7 linked regions of the Homo sapiens genome follow. The protein of the gene in region 4 interacts with the protein of the main gene of each other region in a pairwise test. Each region holds a gene or a part of one and is shown on either strand. Other genes may lie near its edges. The genes, in order: TRAFD1, UNC119, YTHDF1, CFTR, PTCD1, MCCC2 and AHCYL1.

Region 1 (4,031 bases), on a different chromosome or scaffold from region 4:
AATAATCCTACTCTTGGGATTATGTATGAATATTTTCATTACAGTATCATAGAATGGTAAAAAATGAAAGTCATTAAAAATACCTAAGCAAGAAAGGAATAGCTAAGTTACATATAGTATACCAACAAAGTGAAAGAAGAAATGTTATATTGTGATTGTAAATCATGTATGTACAAATGCCATGAAAATTAAAGCCAGTAATTACTGCTTAGGGTGTAGAAAACCTGGGTTCCTTTTTCATAATATTGGCAATAATTTTTATTTTAATGGTAAATATGGAGACACTAAATGTCTAGCATTTACTTTACAAGGCTGTTCAGGATAACTTGTTGACATACTACATACACAAGGCCCCTAAAACTTTAGAATTAAAACAAAAAATATTAAGGACCACACCATCATAATATGAAGCAACAAGAATCAAAAGCAGCTGTCAAGTAAGACCACAAAGCATTTACTATTGCACATATTCACCTCTTAGGAAATGCTGAAATAAAAAAGATATTTGCAACAATTATATAAAACAGTTGCCTGCTGGGTTTTTTTCTTTTAAAATTTAACTGCCAACATATTCCTACCAAACATTCCAACCAGACCAAATACTAATATGCTTACTTCCTACCTTCGGAGAAAATGAAGATGTTTTAAGTGAGATAAATGAGCACACAATTCCGTATCCAGATAAAACTGCTAAAAGTCTCAAGGAAGGGCTAGCAAATTAGAGGTGAAATTTCATTTAGATAGAAATAGCTGAAAGGCAAACCAAAGCTTCCAGAAAAATTCCCAAGAACTTTCCAAACACTAAACACAAACAGCCAGAAATTAATTCTTTACAGGTTTAGTCAGCCTTCTATGCTAATCTGCTTTTTTCTTTAATTTCTTTGGCTTTGAATAGCATTGTTTTTCACTAGCTTTCCATTAACTCACCCTTTAACTCTCTTAGCATAGTTATTTATATTTTGTCCTAGGCTTGAGATTCCTCCTAATTGGAGTGGACTGATAAAATAGGTGTATCTTAACTAATGCTAAAAACCAATGTGTCTCTTTTCTTACAAAATCATGTTTTCTTTTGATTATTTGTTTCTGATTACTCTGTTTCAGTAGCTATACATATAAAACCCAAACAAAACTAAAATAGTTTATGAAATGGTAGAAAGTGATAGTGGCATAGCAGAAATACTCTACAATATGGCAAGACACCTACAATGAGATGAAATCTTAATTCCAAGCAGGTAAAGAATATTGTAACCAGCTGTTGCTCTAATTATATTCTAATTCTGCCAAAGTTAGGCTGAGAAGAAAGAAAAAGACAACGATGATGACAAAAATGTTATTTGGCTCAAATATTCCACCAATGAGTTAAACTATTTTCCTTATTCCACATCTCTTTCTACCACAGTTTGCTAAGGTAAACATAGCACATTGTGAAAGAAGTACCCAGTGAAGGAAAATAAAGTAATAAACATAGCAGACAGTTCTGCTTTGCTTTTTTTGTCAGCTTACAGTAACAGCACTTGTATAGCACCAAGATACCAAGATAAGTTCTTAGGAAAACCCCAACAGGAACCAGCTGATTATTAACTTTACAACCGGTTTCATTTCATCAGGAAAGAGATGCTCTTTCTTGTAATTCATGTGGGTTATAAACACCAAAATAGAAAGCTTAACTCAAGACTGTGCCAGTCTTCACTAACAGTTTTTAAATCAGGAAATGATAGTGATTAAGCTTGACTGTCCTCATTCCACTAACATTTCTTAGATTTAATGTCTTACCAGTTGTCACACAGTCGAGTTTCCTGGTCATCTAGAAATTCAGCCATCTTTAGCTCTTCCTGAAAACCACAAAGGAAGACATGAACTTTCTCTTTCATTTCTGCTTTAAAGATGACATGCAAAAAAACAAATAAAAAACTAGTATACAGAAACTGTCACCCAAACCTGCATGTTAAAGCATTTTATTCAATATCCAGTCCCTTGGGATTTTCTTATTTTAAAATTTTCAATTTAAAATAATTTTATTGGATAAGGGAGTTTTAAAAAATAAAAATAATAAAATAAAATACTTTTACTAGGCTGGGTACAGTGGCTCATGCCTGTAATCTCAGTACTTTGGGAGGCCGAGGCAGGCGGATCACTTGAGCCCAGGAGTTTAAGACCAACCTGGCCACAACATGGGGTAACGTCATGTCTACAAAAAATACAAAAAAAAAAAATTACCCAGGCATGGTGATGTGTGCCTGTAGTCCCAGCTACTCGAGAGGCCGAGGCAGGAGGAATGTGCAAGAGGAATGCTTAAGCCTAGGAGTTTAAGGCTGCAGAGAGCCATGATCATGCCACTGCACTCCAGCCTGGGTGACAGAGTGAGACCCTGTCTCAAAAATAATAATAATAATAACATCCTGGCCAGGCGCAGTGGCTCACACCTGTAATCCCAGGACTTAGGGAGGCCGAGGCAGGCAGATCACAAGGTCAGGAGATCGAGACCATCCTAGCCAACATGGTGAAACCCCCATCTCTACTAAAAATACAAAAATTAGCTGGGTGTGGTGGCGCATGCCTGTAATCCCAGCTACTCGCGAGGCTGAGGCAGGAGAATCGCTTCAACCAGGGAGTCAGAAGTTGCAGTGAGCCAAGATCGTGCCACTGCACTCCACCCTAGCGACAGAGTAAGACTCCGTCTCAAAAATAAATAAATAAATAAAAATAAAATAACATCCCTTACAGACTTCATCCAATTACCCTAAAAGCATCATAACAATAGTAAAATTATCAAATAGAGGAAATTAACACTAATACAATACTAGTAACTAATCTATAGAATTCATTCAAATTTCACCAACAAGTCAGGCACAGGGGCTCATGCCTGTACTCCCAGAACTTTGGGAGGCTGAGCTGAAGAGGATCGCTTGAACCCAGGAGTTTAAGATCAGCCTGGGCAACATGGTGAAACCCTTCTCTACAAACAATTTAAAAATTAGCCAGACGTGGTGGCACACACCTGTGGTCCCAACTACTCAGAAGGCTGAGATGGGAAGATCACTTAAGCCCAGGAGGTCAAAGCTGCAGTGAGCAGTGATTGTACCACTGCACCCTAGCCTGGGTGACAGAGTGAGATCCTGTCTCAAAAAAAAAAAAAAAAAAAAAAAAAATCACCATCCCACCCTTTTTCTGGTTCAGCATTCAATCTAGGATCACACACTGCATTTGGCTATTACTTGTAGTTAATCTCCTTTGATTTGGGAGAGTTCTTCAGTCTTTCCTTCTCTTTCATGACCTTGTTAAGCATACTGGCTTTTTTTTTTTTTTTTTTTTTAAACAGAGTCTCACTCTGCTGTCTAGGCTGGAGTGCAGTGGTGCGATCTCGGCTCACTGCGATCTCGGCTCACTGCAACCTCGACCTCAGCCTCCTGAGTAGCTGGGACCACAGGTGTGCACCACCATGCCCAGCTAATTTTTGTATTTTCAGTAGAGATGGAGTTTCACCATGTTGACCAGGCTGGTCTCAAACTCCTGACCTCATATGATCCACCAGCCAGCCTCAGCCTCCCAAAGTGCTGGGATTACAGGCATGAGTCACCGTGCCCAGCCAGCTAGTTATTTTATATAATATCCTTCAATTTGGGTTTGTCTGATATTTTCTCATGATTAAATTCAGGTTATATATTTTTGGCAAGAACACCATAGAAATCATGTTGTGCTCATCTCAGTGCCTTATATCAGAAGGTACATGATGTCAACAGTCTTATTTTACTATTGATGTAAACCATGATCACATAGTTGATATGGTGTCTGCCAAATTTCTTCACTATAAAGTTTCTCCTGCTTTTTAAACAAGATGTCAATGCAGAAAGCAAAGCACTGGCAACTTTACTACCATTGTTTAGTTTAGATTATTCCTTTCCATGATACAAAAATGGTCTTAAATCCTGCCCCCAGTAGGGTTCTTTAAAGGTTTTGGCATTATCAAGCGAGTTGCCACTTTTCAAAACATGTATTTAGTCATTTGTTCAACATGCTTAATTAAGACAATA
Region 2 (3,948 bases), on a different chromosome or scaffold from region 4:
GACCCCATCTCAAATAAATAAGTAAACAAACAAACAAACACCTGACAAATCTTGCCTCTGAGCCTTTGTTTATGCTGTTCCCTGTGCCTAAGCACTCTTCCCCATCAATTTCCATCACAAGCACCTGCTCCAGTGCTACCTCCTCTAAAAATCCTCCCCAGAACCCTCCACACAGAACGACTCTGATTCTTGCTCTCCGTGTCCCCAGTCCTTTTTTTTTCCCTAGGGACGAGTATGTGTTCCTTGTGTCTCACTCATTTCAGAATTCCCAGAATTCAGTGCAGATCCTAGCTCCACCCCACTTCCCCCAGCAAGGGCTTCACAGAATCAAGCTGAATGCCAGCACTTCTGGGCCTCCTAGGGCCAGAGCTCCTCAGCCCAGAGGGTGCGTCAGCTCTGGGCATATCTGAAGGAGGGCCTGAAACTGTAGGGTGTGCTCTCTGCCCACCTCAGTTCCTGAATTTCCTCCATTAAGCAGCCCCCTCCTCTGAGTCTGGGGTGGGGGTGGAGGCTGAGGGCAGTGTTATGTGCAGGGCTACCCAGGCATGGGGGCTCCCCAAGGCAGCTGAGGGCAAGGAGATGGCTCCAGGCCTTAGCCAAAGCCCTGCCACCGTCTATCATGAGGGCTAAAAACACAACCCAGTGGTCCTAGTGGCCTCTGGGGTTCAGGGAAGGTAGCGTGGAGGACAAGGCCAAACCCCCACCCCCCACACCTTCCCCTTGCACCCTGGAGTTCAGGGCCTTTGTTTCGGCCTCTGTTCTGCCAGGGTTGGCTCTGACTTTGGGCCAAAGCTTCCCCTCTCAGGGTCTGGGTCTCCTTCATCACAAGAAAGACCCTCTCCAGCTCCATCATGTTCTAAATGCTGACTCTATATGGTGTCAGGGTACAGAGAATCAGGGGACAGGAAGACTAAGGGGTGAGAGTGCACTGGAATGTGGGAGGTAGGAGAAATTTTTACTGCCTTAAGCACATTCCTGCCTATCCCTGCTCCCTTCTTTGCCCATACACACAGAGGCTGGCCACACCAGAGAACAGAAAAGGAAAAAGTTTATTGAAAACTATATACAGTTGGTCCAGCTCCTACCATGGGCTGCAATCTCAGCCAGTCCCTCCCACACCTTAGGCAGTGTCTTGGCCCCTCATGGGGAGGGATGGGGCTAGGCCTAGGGCCCAGACTCCCTTGGGTGGCTTGGCAGCTGGAGCCCACCGTGGATCTTTGTAAATTTACAACTCTAAATGGCCTGAAGGTAGTGGGCAGGGGACAGGGAATGGATCCCTGCCTGATCTAGTCACAGCCTTGATAGGGGAACACTATTCTGAAACTTGGGCCCAAGTAGGGCCCAGCTAAGTTGTCCGGAAGTCCTGACTGCTCCTCTCACAGGCCTTCCTAGACGTGGAGGCAAACAGCCTCCCTACGACCCCACCCCATGTAGCAGGCCGCATGGGCTTCATGGGCTTGACTGGGGACACCAGGTACCCTTCCTCCCAACATTGACTCAGGGTCCGGAGCTCCTGGAGAACTCCCCAAGCAGAGGACTTGGGGTTGAGGGGTGAGCGTTGGGGAGGTCACAGCTCCCAGCCCAGAACTGGAGCCTCCTGGGGTCAGGGCAGCCGTGGGGTCAGGGTGTCCCGCTGTAGGAATAGTCTGCTTTATTGTGCATCACCAGCCGGTCATCCACGAAGTAGAAGCTGTCAGACTGGGTCTCATACGGGTGGCGGATCATCTCGCTGACTGCAAGAGAGGCCCAGCCAGGCCGGGCAAAGGTCAGGAGCTTGAGTCCCGCCACTGCAGGGGCTTCAGGACTGGGGTACAGGGACAGCCAAACAGCCTGAAATATCCCCAGCCTCTTTCTCTACGGATGATATGGGAATGGTGGCAGACACAGAAGAGCCCCAGGGTGGGGAGAAATGGGATCAGACCCACAAGTCCCTCTCCCTCCCGCAGCTCAGTCTCTAGACGCCCCCACTTCCCCACTCCCAGAAGACCCTGCCCGCGCACTCAGCTCCTCGGAGAGAGGGGGGAAGTCGTAAATGTGCTCGCAGGTGTTCTTGCTGCTGGGGATGCAGAAGCCAAAGTGGAAGTCGAAGCTTTTGAGTAGCTGGTTGCGGAAGTAGTGCCTCTCGATCATGCGGAAGTTGTTGACAGGCTTGTCTCCCACTGTGAACTCCACCCTGAGCAAGAAAAGGAGGCAGGGCTAAGTCTGTCCTTGAAGTCAACTAGCCAGCCAGGCTCAGGACAGGCCACCCCTACGAGAGGCTGAGAAGGGCCCACTCACACCCTCTCCCTCACCCCCACCACCACCCATAGCCCAGCGACTCACGTGGCTCCCACCTGCCTCAGGCGGAGGAAGGCAGGCGTGAACTGGTAGCGGACAAAGCGCCCAGCATTGGGGTCCAGGTCCCGCCGGTTGATGGGCAACCGTTCTGCAATGTACCCCAGCTGGGGCTCAGTGGGCTTCAGGCTGGGCCCTTGTCCACCCAGGGTTCTACCCTTGGGTCCCCATCTATCTGATTTTTTTTAAACTCCCCAAGAAATTCCGGGGCACACTGAGGGCTCAGACCATTGGCCAAATAGTGCCACCTAGGGGTTCTAGGTCTGCATGTTCCCAATCGCCACTGTGCTTCCCCGGGCCACAGGATGCTGAGGCCTGGGACCCGTAGGACTGCAGTTCCCAGAGAGCCCTGCAGAGGGCAGGTTGGCAGGGACCGAAGGGGTAGGGCTGACCTCGCAAGATGTCCAGCCTCAGAAACATATGGGAAGGAAAAGAAAGGGCCCCCCTGCCTGCAGACTCCTGAGAATGCTGGGGTCCAAGCCCCAGCTCTGTGGACTCCTCTGTGGCCCAAGGATTCCCTGGGCAGCCCACTCCGCAGCTCCTATCTGCCTCCCCATCAATGGCCCACCCAGCCCACTCACCTGAGACTGGGGGCTTCTTGATTTCAAAGAGGACAGTGCCTGAGTCCATGTCCCGAATCTTAAACCTGACAAAGTCGATCTTGTAGATATTCTCCTCAGGGGAGCAGAGGTAGTCTAGGGGAAACAGGCAGCTGAGCAAGGAAGGGGCCGCAAAGCCCCTGCTGCCAGGTCAGCTTGTGTGGGACCCCAGAGTAGCTACCATCTTCTCATCCCTGGGATCACTGCCCTCTGGAAAGAGGGACCTCAGTCCCTGCCCTTGGGGTACACCCCCAGTGTGGAAGAGACATAACTCCGCCATGGGGATCTAACAGGGGATAAGGAGTGCCATCCTACTGGTCTCTGGGGGCCAGGGAAGGGCAGGGCAGAGAAGGGTAGAGGACAAGGCCACCTCCTGAACACTCTCTCTCCCACTCTGGAGTTGAGGGTCCTCATTCTGGCCTCCGCTCTGCCAAGGCTGGCTAGATGACTTTGGGAGAATTAGGTATCCAGCCTGGTGGGAGCCTCTCTTCTCATATGGGAACAACTTCCTGCAGTCTGACCTGTCTCTTCTACTGCAACTCAGTGTATCAACTTCTCTGGTACCCTGCCTTTGAGAACCACCTGTAAAGGGGGCCACACAGCTCTGTCTTGGGAGAGTCACTGTCCTTCTCTGGAGGATACTCCTACCCTCACCCCACAGCTGCCCCTGGCATGACATCTAGATGTATCAGGTGAGGCTGATGTTAAGGGGACTTTCCCTGATATGGGTGGGGCTGGGGCAGGTGAACAACCCCTTCCCTATTCCTCCTCTCCTCCAAACCCCCTCCTCTCAGTAAGAAGCTTACACCAGCCCAGCTCCCTTAAGCAGCTTAACCAAAGCTCTGCTGACTCAAGCCCAGAGCCTGGGATATGGCAGGTGGGAGGAGGCCAACTTTGCTCTCATCCTTTGTTGATCTCCAAATGGGAGGAAGTCTTAGCAAGCAGAGAGAACCCCCTTAGAGGTCATTTACGCAGCCCTGGCTATGAGCCACCACCATGGAGAAAGTAGTCCTGG
Region 3 (4,734 bases), on a different chromosome or scaffold from region 4:
ACCTGAAACCTCCTCTTTTGTTAAAAATGGACTGAATGTGTCTTCCGGTTAATAATAAACTTTGCTGGGCACTGGAATAACCACCAGCCTCCTCAACCGTGGCTGCTCTCAAAAGCAGATGTGGTGTTCCCTGTCCCGAGAAGGCTCCAGAGTATTTGGATTAAGGACCTGGATATGCAGATCCTACTCTTAAGAATTAACATTTCCTCCCTACCCCTCAAATGTAAAACTGGAAAAATTAAGAACTCTGTATTTTGCATTGCATTCTCTTAAAAATTCTGTTAAAAAAATCTCTTCACAGACTGGGTGTGGTGGCTCGTGCCTGTAATCCTAGTACTTTGGGAGGCCAAGGCGGGCGGATTGCCTGAGCTCAGGATTTTCTGGGCTGAGGCTAATATTGCATAACTTTATCACATACTTGTCAACTTCTGCAGATGTACACAATGTGCATTTCACTGCTTATAAATTTTACCTCAAAAGGAAAACAAACTAAACAGGTATTAAACTCTTATTGCATAAATAATAAGAGGCATTGGAGGATGAATGGAGAGAGACGGTGAGGAGCCAAGTCCAGAAAGGGGGTAGCGGTGCCCAGGTGCTGCACGCACCGCTGCGTCTGCACATTCATGTGATGAGGGGTGGGTGACGGTGCCATGTAGTTTATAGTCTTAAGGAAATTAACAGCTCCCTCTTCCAAAGCGAGGGAACGAGAATCCCACACCTTGAGAAACACAGGGCTTTCTACGGTGACTCCCCGAATGGCTCTGCAGCTTAAAAAGCTCCAACACATAAACTCATCAAGTAGGGTGAAGAATGAGGTGACACCAAGTTTGCTAAATAGTATTGTTTATTAAGGCTTGTATTCTCCTAGAGGAAAAACCCAATGTCGTCCAGGACTCCATTCAGGCAGTAACAGTTCAGAGGAAGTGACACGCTCTAAATACAAGTCTAATGATACAGCTGAAACGTTAACTCAGAGGGTCTTTTGGAGCAAGTAGTTTTCAGAAAGCGTCTGCTCTCTAGGACGGTAAGGATCCTCTACAAGGGCACGTGCAGATCCAGGCGCTGGAGCGTCAGGCATGGGCACCATTTTCATGCTTCAACTCAAACTCCAGGTGGTAGTGAGCTCAACGGTCCCTCATTCCACAAAACATGACAGCAAATTCATCTTCTAAAAAAAGTTTTGTTTTGTTTTTACCCATTCAACAGGAAAAAAAATTAGACACACACGATGAAATTTACAACCAGCAGCATCATCCATCACACTGTCTGTACTACCAGATCCTACACTTAAAGCTCAGCATTATTGGTATAAAAACTTAAGACGGCATTAGAATTCTTAAGAAAAGGTGTAAAATTTAAAAAGATGTGCAAACAACAAAGAATGCCCGACCCTGAACCAGACCTAAAGCACCTTCCAGTTCCTCCACACATCATGCCCCAACACCATCCAGCCCAATCGGACACCAGGACAGTGAGGGACGGGTGGCTGTTCAGTGGGCAACAGATCTGGAAGGAAAGATTTTCAAAAAAAAAAAAAAAGTGTCTGCCAAATTTGAAAAATTAAAAGTTATCTGTCTAGCAGAAAAATCAAATGGGTAAATTAGCACTTTAGACCGATAACAGATAATAAAATGACAAATCAGAATGAACAAAAAATCATTAACCTTTTGATTTCAGTATTTTCAAGAGATTTTATCAGAATACTCTAAATGACAAAATGACTCATGGTTTCTTATGTTTGCTAAAAAGCAATAAAGGGATGAGAAATATGAAGTCTCACAGAATATCAAATGACTGAATTTAAGAACACAATTTCTGCCAAAATAGATGCTTTGTTTTTAAGGATACTTACATTTCACATTAGATCAGTCTGATTGATAAGCTGACAAAAAAAATACTCCTTTATTAGTGACTTCTACAGGATTATAATACATAGAAAAAGTACAAATAAATGCAGATCCATCTGGGCAAAAATCAACGACAAGAAAGGCAAAGATGCAACACTCAACCCCCGCACGGGACGACACACTGGAGCTGACCAAGCACACGTGTTTTAAACTGTTTTCAAAGTCAAACGTTAGAACATGTAAGAAACTGGTTCGCCCTCATTGTTTGTTTCGACTCTGCCGTTCCTGTAAAAAGAAAAAACAAAAGTTGAACGCAGAGTAACCACACCAATGAATCCCTCCCAAAAGTGAGATCCGAGGCTGCCCCTTAGCAGCACCTGCAAATCTGGAGGCGGGACCCTGAATGGTACCCAAGCCACACCAGCACACAACTCTGAGCTGCACTGGGGCCTGCTCTGTGGGGGACTGGCCACACTGGGCATGGCATTCTCCCCACCCCCTCTACCAGGAGAAAAGCATCAACCACAACGGTCACATGGGCCACCTGTCTGCTGGGAAGCCTCACTTCCCACAGCTGTCTTTCCCTCATGTGCCACTATCATTCCACATGGAAAGACACTTAGCAATGTGAAATTCTCTGCACTCAGAGGGAGGAGCTGGCACGCACCAGGCTCTCAAGGAGGCCAGGGAGACAGAAGCTGTTCTTCTGTATTTTATCTCATTTAAACTTCTCAGTGGCACAAAGGACACCAAAATCCTTCCAACTGGCTAACAAGGTGCTGTGTCATGTGGCTAATGAAGGGCAGGAGGACCGGTGTGGGCCTGTCCAGTTCAGGCCCTTCCCACTCCCCAGCTCACTCCCACGCCAAGGGGAAGAGCATGCCCCTCCCCACTCCCCCACGGCTAGACTGGCTCAAGGCAAAGCTCCTCTGACCAGGTTTGCTGCCCACTCCCGTAAGAGAATCATCTTTTCCAGAGTGTATGTGACACACAAGCTTGAGACTTACACCCGAATCTTTTCCCACACTGGCCTCCCTGAGTAGCAGGGTCTAGAAGCCCCTTCAGTCTCCTTACAAGGCAGCATACAAAGATGAAAATGTGCGATCTAAGGAGCACACGCTGCACCACTCTGCTAGAGAGGTGTCCCAGGCCGAGTGTGGTGGCGCACCCTGTAATCCCAGCTATTCGGGAGGCTGAGGCGAGAGGATCGCTTGAGCCCATGAGTTTTCGGCTGCAGTGAGCTATTATCTGCCCTGCACTCCAGCCTGGGCAACAGAGAGAGACCCTATCTCGAAATAAAAACAAAACAAAAAGATGCATCCCAGGCACATCCACCCTCATCTGGCCATCTATCAAGATGCAAACTAATAAAGAAAACCAGCGGGCAGGACACCCAAACATTTAACCTGAAACCTCCTCTTTTGCTAAAAATGGACTGAATGTGTCTTCCGGTTAATAATAAACTTTGCTGGGCACTGGAATAAACACCAGCCTCCTCAACTGTGGCTGCTCTCAGAAGCAGATGTGGTGTTCCCTGTCCCGAGAAGGCTCCAGAGTATTTGGATTAAGGACCTGGATAGGCAGGTCCTACTCTTAAGAATTAACATTTCCTCCCTACCCTCAAATGTAAAACTGGAAAAATTAAGAACTCTGTATTTTACATTCTCTTAAACATTCTCCGTTAAAAAAAATCTCTTCCCAGGCTGGGTGTGGTGGCTCATGCCTGTAATCCTAGCACTTTGGGAGGCCAAGGTGGGTGGATTGCCTGAGCTCAGGAATTTGAGACCAGCTTGGTCAACATGGTAAAACCCCACCTCTACTAAAAATACAAAAAAAAAAAAAAAATTTGGCAGGGCATGGTGACCGGCGCCTGTAATCCCAGCCACTCTGAAGGCTGAGGCACAAGAATTACTTGAACCTAGGACGCAGAGGTTGCAGTGAGCTGAGATTGTGCCACTTCACTCCAGCCTGGGGGAGACAGCGAAACTCTCAATCAATCAATCTCTTAACAAAAGAGGTACTGCTGTTCCTAAAAAGCAAATACCAATCTCTTGAGTTCAAATAGCTGATGTTAAAGCCACTCACAGGTAAACTCCCCAGATCCCCATCTCCCTTCAGCCCTTATAAACAGCTACAAAGTTTACTATGTGCTCTTTAAAAAATACTATTCCTCATAAAATTTCTCAAAAAAAAAAAAAATGACGAAGCACAGCTCGTTCTTTTGAGGAATGCTCAACAAGCATCCAGGAAATGCTTATGGCCTAAGATTCTCTATGCTCTTTCTTAATTTCCAAAGTCAAAGAGCCACTCTGCTGAGCCGGCCTGGAGGTCGAAGTGGGGTCAGGTCAGGGGCACCTGCCGCCAGGGCAAGGACAGTCAGTCTGAGGAACTAAGCAATGCTCACAGTGTGGGACGCTCACCACTTTCACTGTTTTAAGCTAAGAAGTGGCCGTTTCTAGGTTTTTTTAAAACCAAAAAATGTATCAACCCAGGACTTGGTCTGACTCTGCTGCCATAAAAGCTACTGCCATCCTAAGAAATCAGTATGTTTCTAAATTTATAGCTGGACAGCAATCTTGCAAAATGCTAACTCTACTTCACTTTCTCAACACTCAACTTGTTTATGACCTTTACAGCAATGGGGCCAAACTCTAAATGATAAAGAAAAGGTGGGTCTGTTCTTCGAAGTCCTGAGAGAACCTTGAGAAAACCGCCCGGGGGCTCTACCAGCACAGGCGCACAACCCTCTCCTCGGCACACTACTTTGTTCTTAAAACTGCACTGACTCGGCCGGGCGCAGTGGCTCACGCCTGTAATCCCAGCACTTTGGGAGGCCAAAGCGGGCGGATCACGAGGTCAGGAGATCGAGACCATCCTGGCTAAC
Region 4 (4,672 bases):
TTGTGTTCTATAAGCCTCCATTTAAAAATAAAAATAACTTCAAACATATCCTAAGTAATGAAAGCAGGGACATGAAGAAACATTTGTACACCCATATTTATAGAAGCATTATTCACTATATCCAAAAAGTGGAAGCAAACCAAGTAGCCAGTGATGGATGAATGGGTGAGGAAAAATGTGGTACATATTTATAGAGTGGTCCCCCTATCCAAGGTTTTGCTCTCTGTGGTTTCAGTTACCTGTGGCACAGTATAATGAGATATTTTGAGAAAGAGAGAGACCACATTTGTATCGCTCGTGTCATAATATATTGTTATAATTGTTCTATTTTATGATTATTGTTGTTAATCTATTACTGTGCTTAATTTATAAATTAAATGTTATCATATGTATGTGTGTATGTATAGGAATAAACACAGTAATCAGGTTCAGTGCTATCAGTGATTTCAGGCATCCATTGGGGGTCTTGGAACATATTCCCCAAGGATAAGGGGGGACTACTCTATAATGAATATTATTCAACCTTAAGAAGGAAGAAAATTGACCCATGTTGCAACATGGATGAGGCTTGAAGACATTATGCTAGATGAAATAAGCACAAAAATACAAATACTGTATGATCCCACTCCTAGGTCCTTCGAGTAGTCAAAATCAGAGACAGAAAGTAAAATGGTGGTTGCCAGGCATTAGAGGAAAGATAAATGCGGGATTATTGACTAACGGGTAAAAAGAGTTTCAGTTTTGCAAGAAAAAAATTCTGTGGAAGGATGATGGTGATATTTGCACAACCATGTGAATGTACCTAATGACACTGAACTGAACTTTAAAATGGTTAAAATGGAAAATTTTATGTTATGTATATTTTACCATAGTTTAAACAGATAACTAAAAATGTGTGTTCTAATTCATGTGAATTCTCAAAAGAGGCTATATCTAAAAGACAGATTCGTGTTTCATGTTCCATGAAGCTTAGAAATTGGAGTGAGAGACTGATGAAACATGACAAGTGAACGCATCTGAAAACAACAAAGTTTCACACAAATGTATGGATTTTATTGACAAGTGATATTTTCTTACAGTAATAAATATAATGCAGTCTTCTTAAGAGTCAGTTTGGAGTTGAGAAGGCAGTGTACCCTTGATGGAAACAGTCAGACTGGTGGTACCATCTTCTTCAGAACTGCATCTAAGAGGCTGTGCTGGCTGGGAATCATACAGCTGTGGGCAACAACTGCATCAGCCCCAAGGCTTCCCTCCAGACCAAAAGGTGATTCATGGCCCCTGGTTAATATCACCCTAGGTTCTCCCCTGTCCCAGTTTTAACATAATATTTCATAGAAATACTAGTGCCATAAAAAGTCAATATTTCAAATATAAAAATTATTTTATACAAATGTAATTCATAATCATTCTTTTAAAATACAGCATTGTTATATATGTTTGAAACATTATTAAAATAAATATTTCCTAGAGAAAAAATTTTGCTTCACAAAATTATAAAACAGAAGCATATAAAACTAATTCATGATTGGTGCTTCTTCAGTGTGTCTCTCATTCTCTCTTAGTGTAGACAGCATGAAGTACATACATCTAGCCTGAAAACATACCACCATCAACCTATACATCTAAATGCTTGGACTTCATGTGTGTCTACCCACAGTGCCCATGGCCTATCTACTTACACACCCTCTACCTGGAGCTTCTGTGGAAAGAAGGGCTGTCCTGTGACAATTTGCACTAACATACTTTTCCAGCTAAACTCTAGTTCAAAGGTCTGTGAGCTTGTCACTTTCTGGAGTTGGGAAAAGGCATATCAACTTCTTCATCAAGGGAACCATCCTGTCCCCTGTGAAAGATTATAACAGCCCTTTCCCAGGTAAGGGATGTATTGTGATTATCTGAAATATTGAGATTTTTGGTAGACCTGGACAATACTAACCCTGATTTCCAGGATCTGGAAGTTCTCTTTCCTGACTGCTCACTAGATGTTGAATGGGGCATATTTTGATGTGCAGTCTTGTGGTTCCTGTGGTATTCTAATACTTGCTTGGAAATGAGATAGTTGGAATGCTTAGCAAACAATATAGTTGTGTTTCTAAACATCATGGGGAGAGGAGAGAAAAAGGAATACAAGCTTATATAAACCGCTGAAGTTTCCAGTTATCATTACTTAATCATAACCCTAAGAAGTATGATTTCAGTTCTTCTCCAACACTACAAATTAACGAGTTTCACTAGACAATAAGCTGATCAACTAGGCTGATTGACATTTAGAGCTGCCTTTCCAATTACTAGCACATGGCAAGGGTTTTCAGGAAAATCTGGCTTGCAAAACACAAGTGGTAAATCTTCAAGGATTTGAAGTACCTTTCACACAATTTGACTATTGCCAGGAAGCCATTTATCAAGACCCATATCAGTGTCCTCAATTCCCCTTACCAAATGTTTCTTTTTTAAAAAAAAACTTAATTCATCCTTGTTTTCTGAGGCAGAGGTAACTGTTCCACGAGCTCCAATTCCATGAGGTGACTGTCCCACGAGCTCCAATTCCATGAGCAAATGTCCCATGTCAACATTTATGCTGCTCTCTAAAGCCTTGTATCTTGCACCTCTTCTTCTGTCTCCTCTTTCAGAGCAGCAATCTGGGGCTTAGACTTGCACTTGCTTGAGTTCCGGTGGGGAAAGAGCTTCACCCTGTCGGAGGGGCTGATGGCTTGCCGGAAGAGGCTCCTCTCGTTCAGCAGTTTCTGGATGGAATCGTACTGCCGCACTTTGTTCTCTTCTATGACCTAGGGAAATGGCTGTTAGTGAGATCTGGGACAGAAGGCAGGTCAGACCAGAGCAGGGACAGAAACTGGCACAGGCTCAAAGGAAAATAAAAGTCAAAGAATGCAATGTCCAGAGCCTTGCATTTTGAACAATCAGGTATGTCACATTTAACTGCTGTGTCCTTTTGCTCTAAGGAGGTTCTACCATCTGTGAAATTAGTTGTGATTTTCTACTCAGCAGCTGGAAGATTCTTCAGGGAGGTTTAGTAGAACTGAAGTTGCTTTGAAAACAAAATATTAGGTCCCTTATAAATTACCTAGAAAATGAGCGTAAGTCTACAGCACCATAAAGAGTTGAGCCTCTTCCACAGTGATCTGAAGCTTAAGAATTCCAAATTGGTCAGGATGTGCCTGAGTTTAATACACCTCCTTGGCTTGTTCAGGTTGAGCAAATCCAAGATCAGACAATAGAGGACTTTACTTAGATTCTTGAACTTGTCCATGGCAGGGCAAGAGGTTGTGAGTCTGCCCCCCTAATTTGTTACTTCAAGCTTAGTGATAATCATGGTAATAACAAGCCTTCAGTAAGGAAACCATTTACCTCCAGGAGGCTCAAAAGCCTGAACAGAAATGACGTGATACATCATCCTCAGAACTTCCTTGTGACTAAACCATAGGGAATTTGTAAACATCACTTGAAAGAAGCTGTGACAGTTTTGTTTTGTTTTAATAAAGACAGATGGGGCCTCACTATGTTGCCTGGGCTGGTCTTGAATTCCTGGCCTCAAGTAATCCCCCCACCTCAGCCTCCCAAAGTATTGGGATTACAGATGTAAGCCACTGTGCCTGGCCATGTGACAGTTTTTTTAAGAACAGTGAGAAGGTGGTTGAGAAAGGTACTACCTGAACCCAAATCATGGCTAGAAAAATGAAATGTGCCTCTCAACTTTGTCATTAATACCATAAATCAGACTGTAAGACAACTAGGCCTGTCCCAGACCACATCCATGGGACATTTAGTTATTGAAAGAATCACAGGGACCTTTTTTAAAATCTTAAACAGTAGAGTATTTTGTATGACTTGGTCCCCAAATAAAGGGCTCAAAAAGTATATATATCCTATTTATAAACATAACTTAGTAATATGCTGCCATTTTAGATTTACTATATTTCAACCTCACCACATGGCTCAGATCAAAGTGAAAAACTTGTGCAGCTATTTTGAGTAAAGCTGGATGGCTGTATGATACATATTTTTGAAAAGAACTTGTACATTGTTGCAATTTGCAGGAACTATCACATGTGAGATTGTTATCAAGAATTACAAGGGCAATGAGATCTTAAGTAAAGTTATAAAGACTCACCAAAAATTGTTGGCATTCCAGCATTGCTTCTATCCTGTGTTCACAGAGAATTACTGTGCAATCAGCAAATGCTTGTTTTAGAGTTCTTCTAATTATTTGGTATGTTCTAGAAAAGAAAGAAAATACCACACATAATATCACAGAACAGTAATGATCTGTATTTACCTTGATAATATGTCTATTGTTCTATTATCTCTTTAAATTACTTATTTCTTTAAGTTCTTTTCACATAATGTTGATATAGCGTTAGCCACAATCAGCTTTTCAACCATGGGGTAGACTCTAAGTATCCATAAATAAACAGGACAAATATTTCAAAGAAACTTTAATAAATGAGTACATTTTTCATTATGTAGAATCACCAGTACTTCTTTATTTGGGGCTATAAACATGCTTATGGTATAAATGGGATACAAAGGCAAATCATAAGGATCAGATTAGGCCCATGTATTTAAAAGCTTCATCATGTGTTGACAAGGGGGAAGAGTTTGTATGAAACTAAAAACTATCTTCGGAAGAAAACACAAGACTCTTAGCAAG
Region 5 (4,031 bases), about 18 Mb from region 4:
TGATCCTGTGAGCACCCACGATGGCCCTGTGCTGAGTATTTTTATATCTGTGCTCTTTTCTGAAAACCCAGCAGCCACTGTAGCCTCCATTCTACAGATGGCAGGGAGAGGAGGCCCTTGGAGATGGAATGAGGGTGGCCCCCGCCCCTCCCACCCTGCTTTGCAGTCGGCTTAGCCCCTCTAAACTCACCTTCCTTGAAAGCCTGCCACACACTCACCTGGGGACTTGTTCAACCCTCCCACACCCCCATTAGCACTTCTGCAGGTGCAACCCAGGAGTCATTCATTCATTCATTCATTCATTTATTTTGAGATGGAGTCTCACTCTTGCCCAGGCTGGAGTGAGCGATCTTGGCTCACTGCAACCTCCGCCTCCCAGGTTCACGCGATACTCCTGCCTCAGCCTCCCGAGTAGTTGAGATTACAGGCGCCCGCCACCACGCCCAGCTAATTTTGTATTTTTAGTAGAGACGGGGTTTCACCATGTTGACCAGGCTGGTCTTGAACTCCTGGCCTCATGTGATCTGCCCGCCTGGGCCTCCCAAAGTGCTGGGATTACAGGTGTGAACCACAGCTCCCCGCTGGAGAGCTTTTTTTTTCTTTTTCTTTTTAATGTTTTTAATTTTTTTTTTTTTTTTTTGAGATGGAGTCTTGCTCTGTCGCCCAGGCTGGAGTACAGTGGCATGATCTCGGCTCACTGCAAGCTCCACCTCCTGGGTTCACACCATTCTCCCGTCTCAGCCTCCTGAGTAGCTGGGACTATAGGCGCCCACCACCATGCCCAGCTAATTTTGTTTTTGTATTTTTAGTAGAGACAGAGTTTCACCATGTTAGCCTGGATGGTCTCGCTCTCCTACCTCGTGATCCGGCGCCTTGCTCTCCCAAAATGCTAGTATTACAGGCGTGAGCCACCGCGCCCGGCCAATTTTTTTTTTTTTTTTATTGATCATTCTTGGGTGTTTCTTGCAGAGGGAGATTTGGCAGGGTCATAGGACAATAGTGGAGGGAAGGTCAGCAGATAAACAAGTGAACAAAGGTCTCTGGTTTTCCTAGGCAGACGACCCTGCGGCCTTCTGCAGTGTTTGTGCCCCTGGGTACTTGAGATTAGGGAGTGGTGATGACTCTTAAGGAGCATGCTGCCTTCAAGCATCTGTTTAACAAAGCACATCTTGCACCACCCTTAATCCATTTAACCCTGAGTGGACACAGCACATGTTTCAGAGAGCACAGGGTTGGGGGTAAGGTCACAGATCAACAGGATCCCAAGGCAGAAGAATTTTTCTTAGTACAGAACAAAATGAAAAGTCTCCCATGTCTACTTCTTTCTACACAGACACGGCAACCATCCGATTTCTCAATCTTTTCCCCACCTTTCCCCCCTTTCTATTCCACAAAACCGCCACTGTCATCATGGCCCGTTCTCAATGAGCCGCTGGGCACACCTCCCAGACGGGGTGGTGGCCGGGCAGAGGGGCTCCTCACTTCCCAGCAGGGGCGGCCGGGCAGAGGCGCCGCTCACCTCCCGGACGGGGCGGCTGGCTGGGCGGGGGGCTGACCCCCCCCACCTCCCTCCCGGACGGGGCGGCTGGCCTGGCAGAGGGGCTCCTCACTTCCCAGTAGGGGCGGCCGGGCAGAGGCGCCCCTCACCTCCCGGACGGGGCGGCTGGCCGGGCGGGGGGCTGACCCCCCACCTCCCTCCCGGACGGGGCGGCTGGCCGGGCGGGGGGCTGACCCCCCCACCTCCCTCCTGGACGGGGTGCTAGCCGGGCAGAGGGGCTCCTCACTTCCCAGTAGGGGCAGCCGGGCAGAGGTGCCCCTCACCTCCCGGACGGGGCGGCTGGCCGGGCAGGGGGCTGACCACCCCCACCTCCCTCCCGGACGGGGCGGCTGGCCGGGTGGGGGGCTGACCCCCACCTCCCTCCCGGACGGGGCGGCTGGCCTGGCGGGGGCTGACCCCCACCTCCCTCCCGGACGGGGTGGCTGCCGGGCGGAGACGCTCCTCACTTCCCAGACAGGGTGACTCCCGGGCGGAGGGGCTCCTCACTTCTCAGACGGGGCGGCTGCCAGGCGGAGGGGCTCCTCACTTCTCAGATGGGGCGGTTGCCAGGCAGAGGGTCTCCTCATTTCTCAGACGGGGCGGCCGGGCAGAGACGCTCCTCACCTCCCAGACGGGGTCGCGGCCGGGCAGAGGCGCTCCTCACATCCCAGACGGGGCGGCGGGGCAGAGGCGCTCCCCACATCTCAGACGATGGGCGGCCGGGCAGAGATGCTCCTCACTTCCTAGATGGGATGGCGGCCGGGAAGAGGCGCTCCTCACTTCCTAGATGGGATGGCGGCTGGGCAGAGACGCTCCTCACTTTCCAGACTGGGCAGCCAGGCAGAGGGGCTCCTCACATCCCAGACGATGGGCGGCCAGGCAGAGACGCTCCTCACTTCCCAGACGGGGTGGCGGCCGTCTTGGCACTTTGGGAGGCCAAGGCAGGCGGCTGGGAGGTGGAGGTTGTAGCGAGCCGAGATCACGCCACTGCACTCCAGCCTGGGCACCATTGAGCACTGAGTGAACGAGACTCCGTCTGCAATCCCGGCACCTCGGGAGGCCGAGGTTGGTGGATCACTCGCGGTTAGGAGCTGGAGACCAGCCTGGCCAACACAGCGAAACCCCGTCTCCACCAAAATAATACAAAAACCAGTCAGGCGTGGTGGCGCGCGCCTGCAATCGCAGGTACTCGGCAGGCTGAGGCAGGAGAATCAGGCAGGGAGGTTGCAGTGAGCCGAGATGGCAGCAGTTACAGTCCAGCTTCAGCTGGGCATCAGAGGGAGACTGTGGAAAGAGGGAGAGGGAGACCGTGGGGAGAGGGAGAGGGAGACCGTGGGGAGAGGGAGAGGGAGAGGGAGAGGGAGACCATGGGGAGAGGGAGGGGGAGAGGGAGAGGGAGAGGGAGAGGCCCGGCCAATTTTTTAAATGTTTTACAGTTGTTTTGAGACACTCTCGCTCTGTCACCCAGGCTGGAGTGCTGTGGCATGATCACGGCTCACTGCAACCTCGATCTCTGGGTTCAAGTGATTCTCCCACTTCAGCCTCCTGAGTAGCTGGGACTGTGGGCATGCAATACCACACCCAATAATTTTTGTATTTTTAGTAGAGATGGGGTTTCACCATGTTGGTCGGGCTGGTCTCGAACTCCTGATCTCAAGGAGTCTGCCTGCCTTAGCTTCCTAAAGTGTTGGGATTACAGGCGTGAGCCACCGCGCCTGGCGTATTTTTTTGAGGCAGGGTCTTGCTATGTTGCCCGGTCTTGTCTCGAACTCCTGATCTCAAGGGATCCTCCCATCTAAAACTCCCAAGGTGCTGGGATTCCAGGCGTGAGCCCTGCGCCCAGCTGCTGAATGGGAGCACCCAGCTGACGTTTGTCTCTTCCGTGGCAGGTGTGGCGGCTGATGCTGAGTCTAGGGCTACAGCCGAGCCGGGACAGCTACAACCTGCTGTTGGTGGCAGCTCGGGACTGTGGCCTAGGGGACCCCCAGGTGGCCTCAGAGCTGCTTCTGAAGCCCAGGGAGGAGGCGACTGTGCTTCAGCCCCCAGTGAGCAGGCAGCGGCCAAGGAGGACAGCCCAGGCCAAGGCAGGCAACCTCATGTCAGCCATGCTGCATGTGGAGGCCCTGGAGAGGCAGCTGTTTCTGGAACCTTCTCAGGCACTTGGGCCTCCAGAGCCTCCGGAAGCCAGAGTGCCCGGCAAGGCCCAACCAGAGGTGGATACTAAGGCAGAGCCCAGCCACACAGCAGCCCTCACCGCAGTGGCCCTGAAGCCACCTCCCGTGGAGCTGGAAGTCAACCTCCTGACCCCCGGGGCCGTTCCCCCTACAGTGGTCTCCTTTGGAACGGTGACCACCCCAGCTGACCGGCTGGCCTTGATAGGGGGCCTGGAGGGCTTCCTGAGCAAGATGGCAGAGCACAGGCAGCAGCCCGACATCAGGACCCTCACGCTACTGGCCGAGGTGGTGGAGTCCGGGAGTCCTGCAGAGTCCTTGCT
Region 6 (4,031 bases), on a different chromosome or scaffold from region 4:
TTAAGACTATGCATTTGTTGGTATGCAGGCATTTAATTTTATTTTTCCTATTACTTGGCCAGTTTTTCTCTTCATAGAGTACTACCACTTTTGGGGGGAAAAGTAAAGATTCAAATTCATAAATTTTATGAATAAATAATTTATTTTTAATTTTTATTAATTTTTTTTTTAAGAGATGGGTTCTTGCTCTATTGCCAGGCTGGACTGAACCCCTGGCTCAAGCGATCCTCTCATCTTGGCCTCCCAAAGTGCTGGGATTACAGGTATGAGCCACCACACCTGGCCAGTGATTTCTTAGTAGGCATTTAATATTTCCTCCCTAAGTGCTGAATCTCAGATGGAAAGCATTCTTCATATTTGATAGACTGTTTCAGATAACTTTTATCAACAAGTATATAATACTTAAAATTGTATATAATACTTTTAATGTAAAATTTTACATTTAGGTTAGAGTAGTTTAAATACTGGATCTCAGGAGTATAAAAATAGTGAAGAAGACTGGATTTGGAAAGTATGGTCTAGAATTGCTTATTTACTAGTTTATTTAGAGACAGGGTCTCCTCACTCTGTTGCTCGGGCTGGACTCGAAGTCGGGAGCTCAAGTGATCTTCTTGCCTCAGCCTCCCAAGTAGCTGAGACTGTACCTGTGCCCCTGTACGCAGCTATGGAATTCATACTTTTGAAGCCATTTTAGATCAAGGTGTTGTCTCCAGAAAAAGAATTCAAACTCTTGCTGAAATGAAAGTGTTTTGTTAGGGGTGATAACTCAATTGTTATGCCCATTTTGAGAGTTTGATTTGGTGAACTCACTGTCCCCCTTAGACATTAAGATGGTGGGTTTTGGGGCCAGGCACAGTGGCTCACGCCTGTAATCCCAGCACTTTGGGAGGCCGAGGTGGGCGGATCACATGAAGTCAGGAGTTCGAGACCAGACTGAGCAACATGGTGAAACCCTGTCTCTACTAAAAATACAAAATTAGCTGGGTGTGGTGGCGCATGCTTGTAATCCCACCTACTCGGGAGGCTGAGGCAGGAGAATTGTTTGAACCTGGGAGGCGGAGGTTGCAGTGAGCCAAGATGGTGCCATTGCACTCTAGCCTGGGTAACAGAGCGAAATTCCGTCTCAAAAAAAAAAAAAAAAGAGGTGGGTTTGACTCAATGGAGGGTTGAGGAGTCCTGTGGCATCAGGTGCCTGCTGGGGATGGTGGATGCTGAGGAACCGTGGTGCAGGCTGGTGGCCACAGGAGGGTAGAGGACTGAGCCGGACTCCCTGGGGAAGGAGGTAGGGAGAAGGGGGAAAGGACAAACTTGGCTGTCACAGCTTTGCCAAGAATTAAATGTCAGGGGAGCTTAATTATGTGCTCTGTGAGCCTGCATCAAGGATAACCCTCTTTCTGGTTCTTCCTAATAAAACCAGAATTCACCAGCTGCTCCAAATTGTAAGGCCCCACTCTAGACAGAATTGCTAAAGAGTGATGTTGTCTTAAGTCTCTCTCTTTTTTTTTTTTTTTACTGAGACGGAGTCTTGCTCTGTCACTCAGGCTGGGGTGTAGTGGCGCGATCTCAGTTCACTACAACCTTGGCCCCCCGGGTTCAAGCGATTCTCCCGCCTCAGCCTCCCGAATAGCTGGGACTACAGGCATGCACCACCACACCCAGCTAATTTTTCATATTTTTAGTAGAGATGGGGTTTCACCATGTTGTCCAGGCTGGTCTCAAACTCCTGGCCTCAAGTGATCCACCCACCTCAGCCTCCCAAAGTGCTGGGATTACAGGCATGACCCACCTGTCACTTTGGGAGGTCAAGGCAGGAGAATTGCATGAAGCCAGGTGTTTGAAACCAGCCTGGGCAACAGAGTGAGACCTCATCACAAAAATTTAGCTGGAGTGGTGGCACATGCCTGTAGTCCCAGCTGCTGGGAAGCCTGAGGTGAGAGGATCACTTGAATTTAGGAGTTCAAGGCTGTAGTGAGCCATGCTGGCACCACTGCACTCCAGCCTGGGTGACAGAGTAAGATCTTGTCTCAAAAAAAAAAAAAAAAAAGGTCCTACTTGGAAGATCGTTTGAGATTATTTTCTTGCCTAAATAAACAAAGAAATAGCTTTCTGAAATAGCTGAACATTTCATTAGACAAAGACTATATTAAGATGAAATTCTTGGACACCAATAAAAATAAACTAATGTTTTAATTATTAAAGGTACAATTTGATACTTCTGTTCTTGCTCCATTACCTTGGTTTGCCGAGAGTGGGTTATAGATATTCCCAAGAATACTCCAGTGGGCTCTTCAGTTATAATTTTCTTTGTCTGTCATGATGTGAGCAATGTTGAGAAGCACTGAAGACAATCTCTGAGTCAAGGAAGGGGACTTTTAAATTGCTAAAGTGTTCAACTCACCCAGTTGCAAGCCTAAAAAGTTACGGATCACTAATGTCATCTTTAGGTAAATTTACTGCACTTATCATGGAAGTAATTTCTAAAATTTTATTTTTACCTGGTACAAATGAAGATAGGAATTTTCCAGATCTATCATAGCATGTATTTAATAAATGTGGTGGAGATGAGGCATTATTTGCAATATGTGAGCTGCAGAGAAAATACTCTGTAATTTATGTAACTACTAGTGAATTCAGAACATAGACTCTAGGATATACTCTAAAATCAGGGATAGATTGATTTTTTTTTAATACCAGTTTTTACATTTACTTCAGAAAATTGGCAACTTGTAAGTTGAGTGAATGATTATTAGCCTTTTCTCAGAGGATATGTTGAACTTTTAAAAAGTGCTATATTTTGGATTAAGTATTATGTTTTTCTGGCATTGAGACCTTTTTATCGTGTCAATCTAATCTAATCTAATCACATTTCTATCATAGGAGGTGGTGAGAAAGCCCGAGCACTTCACATATCAAGAGGAAAACTATTGCCCAGAGAAAGAATTGACAATCTCATAGACCCAGGGTGCGTACATAGCCAAGTACTGACTCAGAGTGTTCTCTGTTCCATAGTACTTTATTAGACAGTCTTGTAAATCAGTTATTTTGAATTCTAGTTCTCATCGTAAGATTCAGGAACATGTGTTTATTGAGAGCCTACTATGTGTCAAGCACTATGTGTTGACATGTTTATTGAGAGCCTACTATTGGTCAGGTACTAGTGATATATCAGTGACCAAAACAGACACAGATCTTTGCTCTACTAGAGTTTACATCATAGCAAAGGGAGACAGAAAGCAACAGTAAAGACTGTAACTTCTGGCTGGGTGTGGTGGCTCACTCCTGTAATCCCAGCACTTTGGGAGGCCGAGGTGGGCGGATCATGAAGTCAGGAGATTGAGACCATCTGGCTAACATGGTGAAAACCCGTCTCTACTAAAAATACAAAAAATTAGCTGGGCATGGTGGCATGTGCTTGTAGTCCCAGCTACTCGGGAGGCTGAGGCAGGAGAGTCGCTCGAACCCCAGAGGCAGAGGTTGCAGTGAGACGAGATTGTGCCACTGCACTCCAGCCTGGGTGACAGAGCGAGACTCTGTCTCAAAAAAAAAAAAGATTGTAAATTCTGTAGTGTGTTAGTAAGTGACAAATGTCATGAGAAAAAGAAAAGGTGGCCCAGGGTAAAGGAGAGGAAGATATAGGGCAAGTTGCAGTTTTAAGAGGTGGTGCCAAGGTAGGCCGCATTGAGAAGGTGATGTCTGAGCAAAGATTTAAAGGAGGAGAGAGAGAGAGAGAGCCTTGTAACTCTCTGGGGAAAGAGTGTTTCAGGCAGAGGGAATGGCCAGTGCAAAGGCCCTGAGGTGGGAGTGTGCCAGGTAATGCTGGTATGCTCAAGGGGCAGCCAGGAGGCTGGGGTGGTTGTGGTGGAGGGAGTGAGGGGAGAGGAGTAGGAGATGGGTCAGATCCTGTATGGCCTTGTGGGTTATCATAAAGGTTTTGGTTTTCACCATGGGAGAAATGGGGAGCTATTGTAGGGTTTTGAACAGGAGATGATTATGATCTGACATAGCTTAAAAGAGTGCTTCTGGCTGCTGTG
Region 7 (4,031 bases), on a different chromosome or scaffold from region 4:
AGGCCTATGTTTCCCTGAATTTTATCTTTGGAGAGAGAGATATTTCACAAATTGGTCCCCAAAATAAAACCACTTTAAAAAAATCTACTTTTTACTAAGTAACACTATTTCCTAACCACAGCTGATTCTTTAACCTTTCAGACTCAGATGGATTTGCAGAAAATAGGAAAAAGCCTAGAGTCCTGATCTGGAACTGTAATTCTTCCTCTTCCAACTGAGTCTAGAGGGGTGTAAAGTCCTCTCCCGCTTTGGCTTGACTTGTATGCCATTGGAATCTGAGACAGAGCTCATCCCAGGGCTCTCTCTTACCTTTCCAGGGTCGTCTACTCAATTTGAGCTGCTCCACAGTTCCCACCTTTGTTCTGTCCATCACAGCCACAACACAGGTATGTGGCAAAATGCCTGCTTACACTGCACTGCAATTTGTGGAACTGGGCGTAGATCAGTTCCAGTGAGGGTGTACTGTACTATGTTCTCATCATCCTATTCTTTTTTGATGTAATAAATTGTGGAAACAGGTATTCTTAAGTATAGAAAAGAGTCACTAAGTCAGTATTCGTTGAATTGGCTGTTTTAGTTGAGAATATAATGTTCCAGCTTAGTTTTATTTGATTTGTTCTTTCGTTAGGAACTAAACAAAAACAACAAATCCTCTTAGGATGTGTGCTGCCCTTTAGTATAGGCAAAGTCCTAGGTACTGTGACTGTGGTAGATCACTGTAGTACTTACCCAAATGCTGTTTAACCTGGTTTTATTTTTATGTGCCTGTCTAAGAAATATTTTTGTGCTTTCTGGCCTTCTTTTCCCACCTTAGGCTTTGGCACTGATAGAACTCTATAATGCACCCGAGGGGCGATACAAGCAGGATGTGTACTTGCTTCCTAAGAAAATGGGTGAGTGAAAAACAGTGGAAATCTATGCAGACAGCTGCATAGTTTGGTAAAATGACTGCCATGAAAGGCATTGGATTTAGAGTCAGAGTTCCAATTCCTGTTCCTGTGCTTACTGGTTGTTTGACCTCAGGACAAGTTCTAATCTCTATGATCCTCAGTTTCTTGATTGGTAAAATGAAAATAATACTACATACATTGTAGAATTGTGTGAGAATCACAGCTAATGAGTAACAGTGCTTAACACAATGGTTTAGGGAGATGTTCTTACTCTAAGTAGCCTTATGAAGTTCAGTAAACTTCCCAGTGCAGCTGAGTACATACAGCCTTGGAACAAAATGAGAGAAACAAACACAGGTTTTATTGTCCATTTTCTGTGAGGATATGCAAACCATCCAATCTCTTGTAAGCAACCCATGCTGTGTTCATGTGACATAATACATCATCTCTAGTCCTTTGCCTTTCTGCACGGTGTACCCATCTCCCATATCTCCTTGGCTAGCCCAAATCCCTGACTTCTTAATGCTAAAATACTTCTTGCTCTCCTCTCCTCCAATAGCTTACTTCAGACTTTTTTTTCAGTGTATAATTATAAAAGGGAAGCTTATCTATGGAAAAGTAAAAATTCTGTGCCGACTACCTTAGAAATTCATGATCCTAAGATCCATGGATCTTATCCTAAATGAGTGTTATTGACACAGGGTCTTTCTAGCTTACTGGTGTCCACTTTGATTGCTAATTTGACTATAATCTAGTTAAGGAGGTTGCTGCAGGAAGGTAGGAGTAGCATGTGACATGTGGGCCACTGCAGGGAAGCCCCCTGCTTTGCCAGAGAAGGATAGAGAGGTAAAAGCCCACTCCCTTTTGTTACCCTGGTAAGTGGCTTTTCTGAACGCACTGTACATGTGCTGAGAGAAGCATCCTGCCCAGAAAGGCAGCTTTGAGGTTTTTTTTTTAATTAAGCAAATATTTCAAGTTGTGGATTCTTTCAGAGTTATTCCATCCCTTGTCTGCTTTCTTAAAAAAGCTTCAAATGAAAATGGGAAGTTATAACTTGAGAGACATTTTGAAAAGGAGTCTGCTCTCCTGCCACTTTGCTCTTCCTAGATGAATACGTTGCCAGCTTGCATCTGCCATCATTTGATGCCCACCTTACAGAGCTGACAGATGACCAAGCAAAATATCTGGGACTCAACAAAAATGGGCCATTCAAACCTAATTATTACAGGTAACCTGGGGAGAAGCAAGTGAAAAGCTCTTTTTCCCAGTATTAAACCAAGCAGGCTAGCCTGCTTCTGACATAAAGATCAAATGTTGTACCTGATTTTGAAGAATACAAGAAATCTGTTCCAGGCCAGGCACGGTGGCTCACGCCTGTAATCCCAGCACTTTGAGAGGCCTAGGCGGATGGATCACTTGAGGTCAGGAGTTCAAGACCAGCCTGGCCAACATGGCGAAACCCTATCTCTTAGCCGGGTGTGGTGGCGGGCACCTGTCATCCCAGTTACTCAGGTGGCTGAGGCACGAGAATCACTTGAACCTGGGAGGCGGAGGTTGCAGTGAGCTGGGATCATGCCACTGCACTCCAGCCTGGGTGATGGAGTGAGACTCTGTCTTAAAAACAAACAAACAAACAAAAAAACTGTTCCAGTTAACAAGGTAGATAGAGAAATTGTGGGAGATATCAGGGAGTTAGGGTTTTTTTGAAATTTTGGAGCCTGGGCCTCACCCTAAGAGATTCTGATATATTTGGTCTGCGATGGGACCAAATTTACAAAACATTATTTTGTAAAACCTCCCCAGATTATTGTAATGTTTAGTCAGGGTTGAAAAAACACTGACTCATTCCTGGGAACAGGCGGTAACACCAGAAATGGCATTGTCAGAGACCCTGTGGAAGAATAAGGGAGACTGGTGCCCTGGGGAATGACTGCAGGGATCCCACCCAGGCTGGGGAGGGGCCCTGGAGAAGGTGCTCTGTTTCCGATTGTTTTTTGGAATTCTCATATGGAAGACATAAGTGTTAACCAATCACTCTCTCTCTTTACAGATACTAATGGACCATACTACCAAGGACCAGTCCACCTGAACCACACACTCTAAAGAAATATTTTTTAAGATAACTTTTATTTTCTTCTTACTCCTTTCCTCTTGATTTTTTTCCTATAATTTCATTCTTGTTTTTTCATCTCATTATCCAAGTTCTGCAGACCACACAGGAACTTGCTTCATGGCTCTTTAGATGAAATAGAAGTTCAGGGTTCCTCACTCTAGTCACTAAAGAAGGATTTTACTCTCCCAGCCCAGAAAGGTGATTCTTTCTTTACCATTTCTGGGGACTTTAGTCTTAATTAGGTACCTTATTAACAGGAAATGCTAAGGTACCTTCTCTGTGGAACAATCTGCAATGTCTAAATCGCCTTAAAAGAGCCCATTTCTTAGCTGCTGAAATCAGTGCTCTTTCACTTCTTCAGAGAAGCAGGGATGGTACCTACCCGGCAGGTAGGTTAGATGTGGGTGGTGCATGTTAATTTCCCTTAGAAGTTCCAAGCCCTGTTTCCTGCGTAAAGGTGGTATGTCCAGTTCAGAGATGTGTATAATGAGCATGGCTTGTTAAGATCAGGAGGCCCACTTGGATTTATAGTATAGCCCTTCCTCCACTCCCACCAGACTTGCTCATTTTTCGAGTTTTTAACTAGACTACACTCTATTGAGTTTAATTTTGTCCTCTAGGATTTATTTCTGTTGTCCAAAAAAAAAAAAAAAGAAAAGAAAAATTAAGGAGAATTTTTGGTGTTAATGCTGAGGAATTGCTTGAGTGGTTAGTTGTTACCAATTTCTCTTTTGAACCTTTGGAGCTAAGGATGCTGAGTCTAGAGAAATGCTAGTCTCAAGCCCTGTTAAGTCCCTCTGTTTCTAGCCCGTAGTTCATAGCATCAGTGAACTGGAGCCACAACAGCAAATTCTATCAGCTGTGTACCATACAGCTTGTGCTGAAGGCGAATTTCTTGAGCCATTACTCAGTATAAAGCACTGAGTTCTATCTTTAGGATTTATCTTTAAGAGCAAATTTCTGGTCAGCTGTGCTTCTGCAACCTAAAATATTTAAAGGGAGGTAGGTGTGGGCAGGAGGAGGAATGA

The links.
Region 1: the proteins of CFTR (region 4) and TRAFD1 interact in binary tests that used the Homo sapiens proteins (3 or more experiments, as listed by UniProt).
Region 2: the proteins of CFTR (region 4) and UNC119 interact in binary tests that used the Homo sapiens proteins (3 or more experiments, as listed by UniProt).
Region 3: the proteins of CFTR (region 4) and YTHDF1 interact in binary tests that used the Homo sapiens proteins (3 or more experiments, as listed by UniProt).
Region 5: the proteins of CFTR (region 4) and PTCD1 interact in binary tests that used the Homo sapiens proteins (3 or more experiments, as listed by UniProt).
Region 6: the proteins of CFTR (region 4) and MCCC2 interact in binary tests that used the Homo sapiens proteins (3 or more experiments, as listed by UniProt).
Region 7: the proteins of CFTR (region 4) and AHCYL1 interact in binary tests that used the Homo sapiens proteins (3 or more experiments, as listed by UniProt).

Annotation. Positions count from the first base shown.
Region 1 is NC_000012.12:112,128,312-112,132,342, reverse strand, and holds part of TRAFD1 (TRAF-type zinc finger domain-containing protein 1), read right to left. Parts: intron 1,833-4,031; 5' UTR 1,821-1,832; coding exon 1,774-1,820; intron 1-1,773. UniProt on the Homo sapiens protein: Negative feedback regulator that controls excessive innate immune responses. Regulates both Toll-like receptor 4 (TLR4) and DDX58/RIG1-like helicases (RLH) pathways.
Region 2 is NC_000017.11:28,545,677-28,549,624, forward strand, and holds the end of UNC119 (protein unc-119 homolog A), read right to left. Parts: intron 3,030-3,948; coding exon 2,916-3,029; intron 2,426-2,915; coding exon 2,323-2,425; intron 2,174-2,322; coding exon 2,001-2,173; coding exon of another isoform or gene 1,948-2,000; exon of another isoform or gene 1,734-1,947; coding exon 1,621-1,733; 3' UTR 1,032-1,620; downstream 1-1,031. UniProt on the Homo sapiens protein: Involved in synaptic functions in photoreceptor cells, the signal transduction in immune cells as a Src family kinase activator, endosome recycling, the uptake of bacteria and endocytosis, protein trafficking in sensory neurons and as lipid-binding chaperone with specificity for a diverse subset of myristoylated proteins.
Region 3 is NC_000020.11:63,194,600-63,199,333, forward strand, and holds the end of YTHDF1 (YTH domain-containing family protein 1), read right to left. Parts: intron 2,136-4,734; coding exon 2,109-2,135; 3' UTR 830-2,108; downstream 1-829.
Region 4 is NC_000007.14:117,665,025-117,669,696, reverse strand, and holds the end of CFTR (cystic fibrosis transmembrane conductance regulator), read right to left. Parts: intron 4,239-4,672; coding exon 4,133-4,238; intron 2,790-4,132; coding exon 2,589-2,789; 3' UTR 1,032-2,588; downstream 1-1,031. UniProt on the Homo sapiens protein: Epithelial ion channel that plays an important role in the regulation of epithelial ion and water transport and fluid homeostasis. Mediates the transport of chloride ions across the cell membrane.
Region 5 is NC_000007.14:99,425,012-99,429,042, reverse strand, and holds part of PTCD1 (pentatricopeptide repeat-containing protein 1, mitochondrial), read left to right. Parts: intron 1-3,426; coding exon 3,427-4,031. Other genes in the region: ATP5MF-PTCD1 (ATP5J2-PTCD1 fusion protein), read left to right, coding at 3,427-4,031. UniProt on the Homo sapiens protein: Mitochondrial protein implicated in negative regulation of leucine tRNA levels, as well as negative regulation of mitochondria-encoded proteins and COX activity. Also affects the 3'-processing of mitochondrial tRNAs.
Region 6 is NC_000005.10:71,593,403-71,597,433, forward strand, and holds part of MCCC2 (methylcrotonoyl-CoA carboxylase beta chain, mitochondrial isoform 1 precursor), read left to right. Parts: intron 1-2,877; coding exon 2,878-2,962; intron 2,963-4,031. UniProt on the Homo sapiens protein: Carboxyltransferase subunit of the 3-methylcrotonyl-CoA carboxylase, an enzyme that catalyzes the conversion of 3-methylcrotonyl-CoA to 3-methylglutaconyl-CoA, a critical step for leucine and isovaleric acid catabolism.
Region 7 is NC_000001.11:110,018,734-110,022,764, forward strand, and holds part of AHCYL1 (S-adenosylhomocysteine hydrolase-like protein 1), read left to right. Parts: intron 1-141; coding exon of another isoform or gene 142-186; exon of another isoform or gene 187-317; coding exon 318-386; intron 387-814; coding exon 815-893; intron 894-1,997; coding exon 1,998-2,118; intron 2,119-2,940; coding exon 2,941-2,947; coding exon of another isoform or gene 2,948-2,993; 3' UTR 2,994-4,031. UniProt on the Homo sapiens protein: Multifaceted cellular regulator which coordinates several essential cellular functions including regulation of epithelial HCO3(-) and fluid secretion, mRNA processing and DNA replication.